Regions from separate parts of the Homo sapiens genome. Here region 1 is linked to region 2. Evidence: fine-mapped expression QTL. A gene starts in region 2. The other region holds a variant in brackets. All regions are shown on one strand. Distances are between the middles of the regions.

Region 1 (5,367 bases), 21 kb before region 2:
CCGAGAAAAGTTTTTTATTTCAAGTCGACTAACAAGAAGACAGGAGTCCAGCTCAACTCTGTCTCCCTAGCTGGCTTTAAGGAGTACTTTTATTAAAAAAATGTTTAGGGAGTGGATTCTGGGATTAGTAGGTGATTGGTGGAAGGAAAGGGGAGGCCTGGAAAGTCTTCAGGTATGTGCAGTTATCTCTTCCTGCCTCCATATAGGTCTCATGTGCAAATTCAGGGGGAGTTAGTGTGAAATGTGGTGGAAATTCAGGCTGTGATATAAGCAAGCTTGTTTTGCATATACTCTAGTCAGTTATTGGTTCCAACCAATTCAGCCAGTTTTGTTATCTTACAAGCGGAGGGAGTTTCACTGTTTCAGCAAGTTATTTTCTTATGTGCTATCCTGTAAGCCCAAGAATTTAGTCATTGGTGTTTTTGTTTGTTTGTTTGTTTTTTAACTCTTTGGGGCAGTTTCAGTAGTCAAGAGAGTTTGCCTCACCCTCAGATAATTCCCTATCAGTGATGGGTGCACCAAAATCTCAGAAATCACCACTAAAGAATTTATTCATGTAACCAGACACCACCTGTTCCCCAGAAACCTATTGAAATAAAACATAAATTAAAAAAGAAAATTCCCAGTCTAGCCAGTCTAGTAACACACAAATGATTTGGTACAAGACAAGATTAATTTATAAAACATCTATCAATTATAATAGCAAATATTAAGCACTTACTACTAGTCAGTTACTCTTTCTAGGAACTTAATGTGTATTAGCTTAATATACATTAATTCTTTTTTTTTTTTTTTTTTTTTTTTTTGAGACAGAGTTTCACTCTTGTTGCCCAGGATGGAGTGCAATGGTGTGGTCTTAGCTCACTGCAACCTCCACCTCCTGGGTTCAAGCAATTCTGCCTCGGCCGCCTGAATAGCCGGGATTACAGGTGCGTGCCACCATGTCTGGCTAATTTTTGTATTTTTAGTAGAGACAGGGTTTCACCATGTTAGCCAGGCTGGTCTCTAACTCCTGACCTCAGGTGATCCGCCTGCCTCAGCACCCCCTAAGTGCTGGGATTACAGGCATGAGCTACTGCGCCTGGACTTGAACTTAATTTTTACACTACAGATAGTTGGATTTTCCTTTTTGATTCAGTCTGACAATCATTCTTTTAATTTGTGTTTAGAACATTTAATTTAATGTAATTATTGATGTGATTGGGTTAAAATCCATTGTTTTGCTAGTTTTCTATTTGTTCCATCAACTCTTTGTTCCTTTTCTCCTGATCTTTCTGTTTTGGGAATAATCTTTTATAATTGCATTTCATCTCTATTATTGGCTTATTATTTTTGCCTCTCAAAAAATGTCTTTAGGCCGGGCGCAGTGGCTTACAACTCTAATCCCAGCACTTTGGGAGGCTAAGGCGGGCGGATCATGAGGTCAGGAGATCAAGACCATCGTGGCTAACAGTAGAGAAACCCTGTCTCTACTAAAAATACAAAAAAAAAATTAGCCTGGTGCAGTGGTGGGTGCCTGTAGTCCCAGCTACTTGGGAGGCTGAGGCAGGAGAATGGTATGAACCCGGGAGGCGGAGCTTGCAGTGAGCCAAGATTGCGCCACTGTGCTCCAGCCTGGGCAACAGAGTGAGACTCCGTCTCAAAAAAAATAATAAATAAATAAATGTTTTTAGTAGTTGCCCTACAGCTTACAGCATACATTTTAAGTTAATAACATTCTGTCTTTATACACTACATTACTATTGAAAATACCTTACAACAGTATTCTCCCAGTTCCTCCTGTCTTTTGGGCTACTGTTATGCATTTTATTTTTACATATACTATAAACTTACAATACATTGCTATTTTACTGTAGATGGTCAATTATGTTTTAGAGTGGTAAAAAATAAGAAAAGTCTTTGTACACGTACCTTCATTTTAGCCATTTCCATGGATCTTCACTTATTTGTATAGATCCAGTTTTCTCTCTGGTATTACAGCCCTTCTGCCTGAAGGACTTTAATTTTTCTTGTAGTGTGGGTCTGCTGGTAATAAATTCTGATTTTTTTTTTGTCTGAAAAAGTATCTATTTCTTTATTTTAAAAAATCATCAGGGCCGGGCACAGTGGCTCATGCCTGTAATCCCAGCACTTCGGGAGGCCGAGGTGGGCGGATCACCAGGTCAGGAAATCGAGACCATCTTGGCTAACACGGTGAAACCCCATCTCTACTAAAAACACACAAAAAATTAGCCGGGCGTGGTGGCGGGCACCTGTAGTCCCAGCTACTTGGGAGGCTGAGGCAGGAGAATGGCATGAACCCAGGAGGCAGAGCTTGCAGTGAACCGAGATGGCGCCACTGCACTCCAGCCTGGGCGACAGAGTGAGACTCCATCTCAAAAAAAAAAAAAAAAAAATTCATGCTTTTTATTGATATATAATTCACATATAATAAAATTCACCCTTTTAAAATGTACAGTGGTTTTTAGTATATTCAAAACCTTGGCCAGGCACAGTGGCTCTAAAATTAACCATGCATGGTGGCTCGTGCCTGTGGTCCCAGCTACTTGGGAGTCTGACGTGGGAAGATCACTTGAGCTTAGGAGGTCGAAGTTGCAGTGAGCCGAGATCACACCACTACACTCCAGCCTAGGTGACACAGTGAGACTCTATCAAAAAAAAAAACAAAAAAAA[C/A]CCCACAAAATGTTGTGCAGCCATCATCACTAATTCCAGAATGCTGTTATCAACCCCAAATAAAACCACACCCATTAGTAGTCACTTTCCATACCTCCCTGTCTTTAACCCCTGGCAACCACTGTCTGGTATTTTTCACCGTATATAAGATTCTGGGTCAGTGGTGTTTTGTTTTCTTTCAGTACTTTAAAAAAATACACTTCATTGTCTCTGGCTCTCATAGTTTTTTTGAGAAGTCTAGTGTATAACTGTCTTTTTTCTTTTGTATGTAATGCATAAATGTGTGCTGCTCTCACCACCTTCCCCTCCACCTCCCTCCACCCCTGCTTTTAAGATTTTCTCTTAGGGCAGCTGTTTGAATACATTGTGTGTATGTGTTTTAGCCTATTCTCTTTGCTGCTTGGATCTGCAGTTTGATATCTTTCATAATTTATGGAAATTTCTTGGCTTTTTCCTCTTCAAATATTTCTTCTGCCCCATTTTCTCTTTCTGGGATTCTAATGACACATGTGTTAGATGATTTAATTGTACCATCGTTCTTGGATATTCTCTCCATTTTTCTTTCTTTTTTTCTTCTCTGTTTCAGTTTAGATACTTTTCACTGACCGTTTTTTTTCTTTTTTTGAGATGAAGTCTCGCTCTGTCACCCAAGCTGGAGTACAGTGGTGCAATCTTGGCTCACTGCAACCCCTACTTCCCAGGTTCAAACAATTCTGCCTCAGCCTCCCAAATAGCTGGGATTACAGGCATGCACCACCATGCCCAGCTAATTTTTTTTGTATTTTTAGTAGAGACGGGGTTTGATAAGGTTGGCCAGGTGGGTCTTGAACGCCTGACCTCAAGTGATCTGCCTGCCTTGGCCTCCCAGAGTATTGGGATTACAGGCATGAGCCTCTGCGCCTGGCCATTATTGACCTATCTTTAAGTTCACTGAGTCTTTCTTATAGTTTCTGTCTCTCTGCTAACGTTCCTTATCTGTTCATATATGTTGTCCACATTTTCCACAAGAGTCTTTGACATTAATTTTACTTACTTCAAGTTCTCTGATAATTTCAGCATCTGGGAAATATAATCTCTTGAATCTGGTTCTGTTAATTTCTATATCTCTTGGTGGTTGATTGCTTTAGCTTTTTTTGTGTGTCTTGTAATTTTTTATTGTTGCCAGAGATGATATGTAGGACAGAGACTGAGATTAATAATATTTATGTCTGGAAATTCTTCTATTAGGCCATTAATATATGGGGTTAAGTCAGTCTTGTCAGGAATTGAACTGGGTTTGGGCTTTGTTCTCATTACAGTGCCTTTGTTTTGTTTTTGTTTTTGTTTTTGAGACAGAGTCTCCCTCTGTTGCCCAGGCTGGAGTGCAGTGGTGCGATCTCGGCTCACTGCAAGCTCCGCCTCAGCCTCCCGAGTAGCTGGGACTACAGGCGCCCGTCACCAGGCCCAGCTAATTTTTTGTATTTTTAGTAGAGACGGGGTTTCACCGTGTTAGCCAGGATGGTCTCGATCTCCTGACCTCGTGATCCGCCTGCCTCGGCCTCCCAAAGTGCTGGGATGACAGGCATGAGCCACCACGACCAGGCTACAGTGCCTTTGTTTGACACAGGCTTTCAAGTGCTCTGGTGTTATCCAGTGTTTAGGGTAAGGATTGACTTTCCAGAGGGTTTCTCAGCAGCCCTCCTCTCTTCAGTTGTTGGATTTTCCTGTGAGCCTGTGCCTTAGACATGGTCTTTCTTGTGCCCTTTTCCCTCTTCCAGAAGTAGACTGCTTCTGCTTGTCACTTAATGTTTGTCGGCTAAACGGGTGGAGGCAGTTCTCCGTTCAGTCTATCTTAAGCAGATGTGGCTCTCTGACTCAGTCTTCCCCAGGGCGTAGGGGGCTTTTTCTTTTTCTCCTTCCCCAGCCTCTGTGGGTCTTTACCTGATTCCTAGGCGTGACAGGGATTATTATTATTACCGTTTCCCTGGCAGCTTAAGACTTTTGCTCCTTAGGGGAAAAGTGATTAGGTGAGGCAGAGGAGCTTGCCTTTAAGGTATTCAACAGTGAGGATGGCTTCCTCCAGGCTCCTGCCCTGTGCCGTCTTTTTCGAGCACTGGCAAAGTCCAAGGAGAAAAGCCTGTGAGCTGGTGCAAACTCCTCTGAGGTTTGCAGCTCCTAGGGATTCTGTACTATCCTGCTAGCCTGTACGCTGCTTGTAGAAATGTGATAATAACATTATCTGAATTCTTAACCTGGTTGTATGAAGGCTTGTGTCTCCCTCCTGATGCTGCCAATAAGCCAGTACTTGTGTCCCATTGCCCCTTGGAGGACCTTGTCTTTTCTTAAATTTCAGGGAAATTGATCGACTTACCTCTCTGATGAGTTTAAGAAAAGTTATAATTTTGCATATTATCCAGCTTTTTTCTTATTGTTAGAATAGAAGTGACGTTCTTTCCAGCTTTCTACATTTTAGTCCTTGAATTGAATTTTGAATGGCAATTAGGAATTGGCATGAAATTCAATTCAATTAAGAAAGGGTGGGAAGGACATTTTGGGCAGAGGAAGGTTGCTTCAGCAAGACACAGGAGCATGAAATTGCATGAGAGCTTCATTTACCAACAGCTGGTTTGGGTTCAAATTAACAATGTAAGTAATAGCTAGAATGGTGGGCCAGTTCACGGAAGGCCTAAATGTCCAGTGAAGGTGTTAAATTCT
Region 2 (5,367 bases):
CTCTCCAGTCTATGGCCAGGAGGTCCTGCCTCCACCTGTAGTTTCTGCAATTTCTTACACAGAGGGTAAAACGAGCTCTCCTGCATTCTCACCTAACTCCAGTCACTCACGCTGGTATGAGTATATATCCACTGTTTCAGAAGCTTCCCTGTTTCCACTGCCCTTGGGGGCCTGTTTTGCAGTTGTCCATTTTTAGGGACATCTGTTAGAATAGACCTTGACCTATTGCCCAACTGGACAGACAACTATCCCACATGCTGGATACCAGAATGTCCCAGGGCTGGAGATCCTTCTGCTCCTACTAATTTTCCCAGCAATCCTTTGGGTCCCGTTTGCACTCTAGCTTAACCAATAGGCTCAGAGACAGCAAATACCCTTCTGAGACCACACGTTGGATTGTGGTCAGGAACTCCACTCTCTGGCCACCACACTTCGTCCTGGTCACATCTCACTCTAACCCTCGCTGGAGTCAGAATGACTAAGTTTACAGGCCAGTCTGGTGTGACTTTGTAAGAACTACCTCTCTGGAGGCCAAGTTTAGGTCCCTGACCATTAACTCTGAAAACCCATTAATCCCCCCTCCTCTCCCCTCCCCCATCCCGCTCCCCGCAATGGCCGATGGACCCCCTGTGGGGGCAGATAGATCCATCCCTCCTAAGGGACCGATCCTGTCTATCTCCCTGTCCCAGGTACTTTAAGTTCGTCCCAAGCCAGCAATTCCCACCCCTTGCTGAAGGCCCCTGGCTCCAGGCCTACCCTGGCCAACAGATCTGGGGTATAAGGACCCGAGGGGCCCGCCATCCAACCCCGCGTGCCGAAGGCGCCCATCCCTATTCCACTCAGATTAAACGAGAGAGGCTGAAAGGTTTAAACGCTTTATTGTGCCCAAAAAAAGGCCCATGGAATGAAGGGAAGAGCCGCGCAGCCCTGAGCCCGGAGCGATTGTTTGTCGCGCACCCAAAGGCAAGGAGGGTGGGGAGCTGGGAAAGGATGCGCGGCCTCCGCGTCCCCGCGCGCCTGGGCCCGGCCAACCAGCGACCCCGCCCGGTGGGCAGGCGCGGCCTCGGCCATCGGCGCCTAGGGGCCAGTAACCATGACGACGGCCGTTGCCAAGGCCGAGAGCCAATAGAGGCGTCGCCGGGGCTGTTTCAAAAACCTAAAGCAAACAACGAAAAACGCTACATCGTTGGGGGAGGGGAAAGACTGAGAGGACCCGGGGCCCCTCCCTGAGGCTCAGACCAGGCCTCGCGGCCCCGGCCGGCGTGAGCCGTACAAAATCTACGTCACTTGGGGTAGAAAAACAAAAACACCGAAAAGCCCACGCCGGCCGCTCTGACCGGCCGACACGCTCACTTGCGGCCCTTGGGCACTTTGGGGACGCTGGGCTTGGCCGCCTTCTTCACCTTCTTGCCCCCGGCGGCCGCCGTCTTCTTGGCCTTGCCGCCTTTGTCCTTCTTGGCGCCAGCGCCCTTCTTGTGCGAGCGCTGCTCCGGCTTCTGGCCCCTGGCGGGCTTCTTGTCCGCGCGCCGGGAGCCGGCCGCGCCCGGGGCTGCCTTCTTCGCTTTGTGCGCGGTGGGGGCCGGGGCGGTGGCGGCCGCCGGGGCTCCGCGCCGCTCCCCGCCGCCCTCCAGCTTCTTGCGGTTGAGCTTGAAGGAACCGTTGGCGCCGGTGCCCTTCACCTGCAGAAGCGTGTCGTTCTGCACCAGCGCCTTGATCGAGTACTTGAGGTAGGTGCGCCCATTCTGCTGGTCGAACCACGGAACCTTCTTGGCCTCGGTGTAGATCTTGGCCAGCGACGAGCCGTTGCGCTCGCCCAGCCTACGGATGGTCTCCACCACCAGCTGGCTGTACTTGCCCGGCTGGTTCTTCTTCTTGCTATTCTTCCTCTTCTTAGATGGGGACAACGCCGCCGAGCCGCCAGCCTTGGTCACCTTCTTGGCCATTCCCTCGGCGGTCGTCACTGGCAGGGCCTCCTCGAGCTCCACGGACATGGTAGCAAGAGGATTGGTGGCGGGCGGCGCGCGGAAGCCGGGGGGCCGCGCCGGGAAGAGGAAGGCGAGGGGCCGAGGGGGTGCAGGGGGGCTGGGGGCGCGCGGCGGCTCCAGGCGGGAGCGGCCGCGGCCGGGCCTGGGGCCGGGCGGCAGGGCTGGGGTGGGGGCCGGGCCGGGCCGGAGCGAGGGTTGGGGGGCCCGGAGCCGGGGCCGGACTAGGGGACCGAGTTGGGGGTCAGAGACCGAGTCCGAGCCGGCGGCTGGAGCTGGGGACGTAGACCTAGGCCGAGCCGGAGCGAAGAGAAATCCCGCCGAACGCGAGACACCGCCGCCGCAGCTTCCACTGGCGCCTCTGGAACTCGCTGGGCGTGCGCGCTGCGCTCTGGCGGGAGGGCGCTTCTCTCGGCTTTTTATAGCTTCATGGCGGACCACGTTGAGAACAACAACAGCCTGGTCCGGGGCCAGCGCCAACTTGTGCTTCTTGGAGCCCCTTCTCCGGCCGCTGGCTTCTCGGACCGCGCCTCTCCAGCGCCGCCGCGCCCGCAGCGGGGCGCCCCGGACAGGGCCTGAGCTCCCGGCGCAGTGGAGAGGCGACTTGCGTCCTGGAAGGGCTCAGCAAAGGCGAACGGAGAGGTGCACCCTAGGCTGCGGGAGCGCGAGAGGAGGGGGGCACCTCGTTTGGAGGCCAATAGCGCGGGCCCCAGAGGAGGCCCCACGGCCGGGAGCTTGGCGGCCGGCAACCCAGAGAACGCCACGGGCACCCGAGCCTTGTCCCGGCCCGGGGGGCTCCAGGCCTGCCCGCAAGAGGAGCTTTAATTTGTCCAAACTAACACAGGGCGCGCCCTCACGTGGTCGGCTGGGGCAACGTGAACTGCGCTAGGACATCCTCGGGGGTTTTCCGCCCCATCCAAAGGGGATGGCGGATGGGAGGCACTCTCCAGCTGCACCCCGGGTTCTGGTTGTGCCTCTGGGAGCCTAGGCACAACCCGGGGAATGGAGGACTACGGCAGGACCTCTCTAGGGACACTGCCTCGCCGCTCCCCCCACCCTGTTGCCGCTGATGTTCCCAGGGCCTCATTTTGTAATCCACAAGTAGCTGCCGCCGGTCCCCCCAAAGCCAAATGGGGGCTCCAGGGTGGGACAGGGTGGGCGGGGGTGAGGCTGTGACACCCAGAGGAATTCCTGTGAGAGGATGGGGAAGGGATTCGCTCTTAGTTCCTGGGTGCACCCCTCCCCCTCTCCCGTGCACAGGGAAATGATGGCGGGAACACAGCAAAGGAGACCATGTCCTGGAGAGGGTCCCGGGCCCCACCCTCCCCGGGGGGGCTTGTGCAAGGCTGGCGGCCCGATCTCTGCTGATTCCAGTATTGGGGGTGCAGAGAAGGCACAGGACAGTTTTTGTTGAAGCCGTTGCAGCCTCCACTTGGGGAAGCTGAGGCCAGGGTAAGATGCTCGGGTAGGAGAGGGGATCCCTTTGGGGGTAGGTGATGTAGGGCACAGGAGTGGGGCTGGGGCTGGGGGGTGGCAGGGTTGCAGGCAGGAGACAGTCTCCAGAGGCCCAGCATAGAAAAGCGATGGAGGGGTGAGGGGGGACAGGACGCTGGCGAATTGGGGTTCCCAGAGTGAGAGACAGGAACATTTACAGGTGGACAGAGTAAAAGGCCCTGAAAAGGGGGTGGGTTGGTGCATTTGTGGCCTTGGGCCCAAGCAGGCTTCTCTGGGTGAGGGCTAGCAGCACCTCCCCTCTTCTCCAGCTCACCCCTTTCACACACACACACGCCCCCCATTTTGTCACCCTGTCAAGGGAATAAACCCCAGAGAGGAAGAAATTATGTCTAGGAGGAAACGGTGAGCCTGGATGGGTTTTTTAGGGGGGAGGCTGGCAGGGGCATGGAGCCAGGAAACAGCCTTCGCCCCCCAGAGCACCAGGTACCCTGAGAAAAGTGAGAAGAGAGATTGCAGCCCAGGTCCCTGCAGAGGAGGATGGGCTCCTTTCCCAGGAAGGACTGGCTGAGTGGACTGTCTCCAGGGCACAGGACAACGTTGAGGGCCTGAGGCCTCCACCTTCTTGAAGAAGGACCATGTGAATTTCCTGACAGAGAACGGGGATGGGTTTCTGAAAGCACCACCCAGCTGAGCCTGCCGAAACTGCACAGCTGTTTCCAGGCCAGGCTGGCTGCATGGAGGACGTGAGAGGAACAGCCAGCTGTGTGTGCTGGGCCCACTGATCAGGGTGCTCAGGACCAGGAGCCTTCTGAGGATGTGCAGAGGGGACTCTGGGGAGAGGAACATGGTGGCCACAGCTGGAGTGACCGCAGTGTACAGAGATGGGATGGGAGCAGGAAACCCAAAAGAGCCGGCCCTGGAACCAGGTGGAGGGGAGGCAGCCCGGCCATGACCCAGAGCAGGTGATATGATTTGGATCTGTGTTCCCACCCAAATTTTAGGTTCAGTTTTAATCCTCAGTGTTGGAGGTGGGTCCTGGTGGGAGGTGATCAGATCATGGGAGTGGATTCTAATGGTTTAGCACCATTCCCTCGGTGATGTCCTCATGATGGTGAGCTATCATGAGATCTGGTTGTTTGAAAGCGTGTTGCACCTCCCCTGACTCCCTCTCTTGGTCCCGCCCCTGCCATGTAGGACACCTGCTCCACTTCACCTTTTGCCATGAGTAAAAGCTCCCTGAGGCCTCCCAAGAAGTTGATGCCCTGTGCTTCCTGTACAGCTGCGGAACCGTGAGCCAATTAAACCTCTTATCTTTGTAAATTACCCAGTCTCAGGTAGTTCTTTATAGCTTTGTGAGAATGGACTAATACAAGGGGCTTGAGCTTGGGTCTTTTGAAAAGTTAAAGGGTGAGCAGAAGCGATACCCCTGAAGGAGTCCCAGCCATGGGCAACAGGGCCATCGCTTGGCCTTTTGTGCAGCCACCGCAGGGGGGAGGAGTGGCATGCTGGACATGCCACTCTGGAGCTGGCTGCAGCCACAGGCTGGGCCAGGGACACTCCTGGGTCATCTGTGCTGGAGGAAGGGGATGCTCTAGTGGAGACAAAGGGACAGGGTCACGGAGGAAGGCGGGACCCAGGTGTGGCCTCCTTCATGACATCTGAGGAGAGGAGATTCGAGAGAGGAGGGCTGGGCACCGCAGCCAGTACAGCCACTCACAAAGTAGAGCCGCAGTCCGGGCACTGAGGAGAGCGGCCAGGCTCGCAGCCACGGTGCCCCGGGGGACCTGGCTGGGACTGCAGGGGAGAAGCAGTCAACACAGGGCTGGAGCCCTGTGGGCAGGGCAGTGCTGTCCAGTCCCGGGGGGAGGACACGGAGGATGCAGCTCAGACCCCACACCAGCCTTGGTGGGCACACGGGCTGGGGGCCGGC

The links.
Region 1: its variant is fine-mapped to the expression of H1-10-AS1 in whole blood (TOPMed, PIP above 0.99).

The regions. Positions count from the first base shown.
Region 1 is chr3:129,292,782-129,298,148 of GRCh38, forward strand. All of the region lies in intron 4 of HMCES (5-hydroxymethylcytosine binding, ES cell specific), which reads left to right. Among named protein-coding and RNA genes, the nearest start is that of HMCES, 17 kb to the left of the region's middle. The variant C/A (reference allele first, on the strand shown) is at 2,674.
Region 2 is chr3:129,313,912-129,319,278 of GRCh38, forward strand. H1-10-AS1 (H1-10 antisense RNA 1) reads left to right here and starts at 2,360. Exons shown (of 5, transcript NR_026991.1): 1 at 2,360-3,434; 2 at 4,021-4,399; 3 at 4,632-4,726. H1-10 (H1.10 linker histone) reads right to left here and starts at 2,375. Exons shown (of 1, transcript NM_006026.4): 1 at 860-2,375. The coding sequence starts at 1,991. The coding sequence ends at 1,350. RefSeq lists silencers at 914-1,203, 1,584-1,713, 2,514-2,853.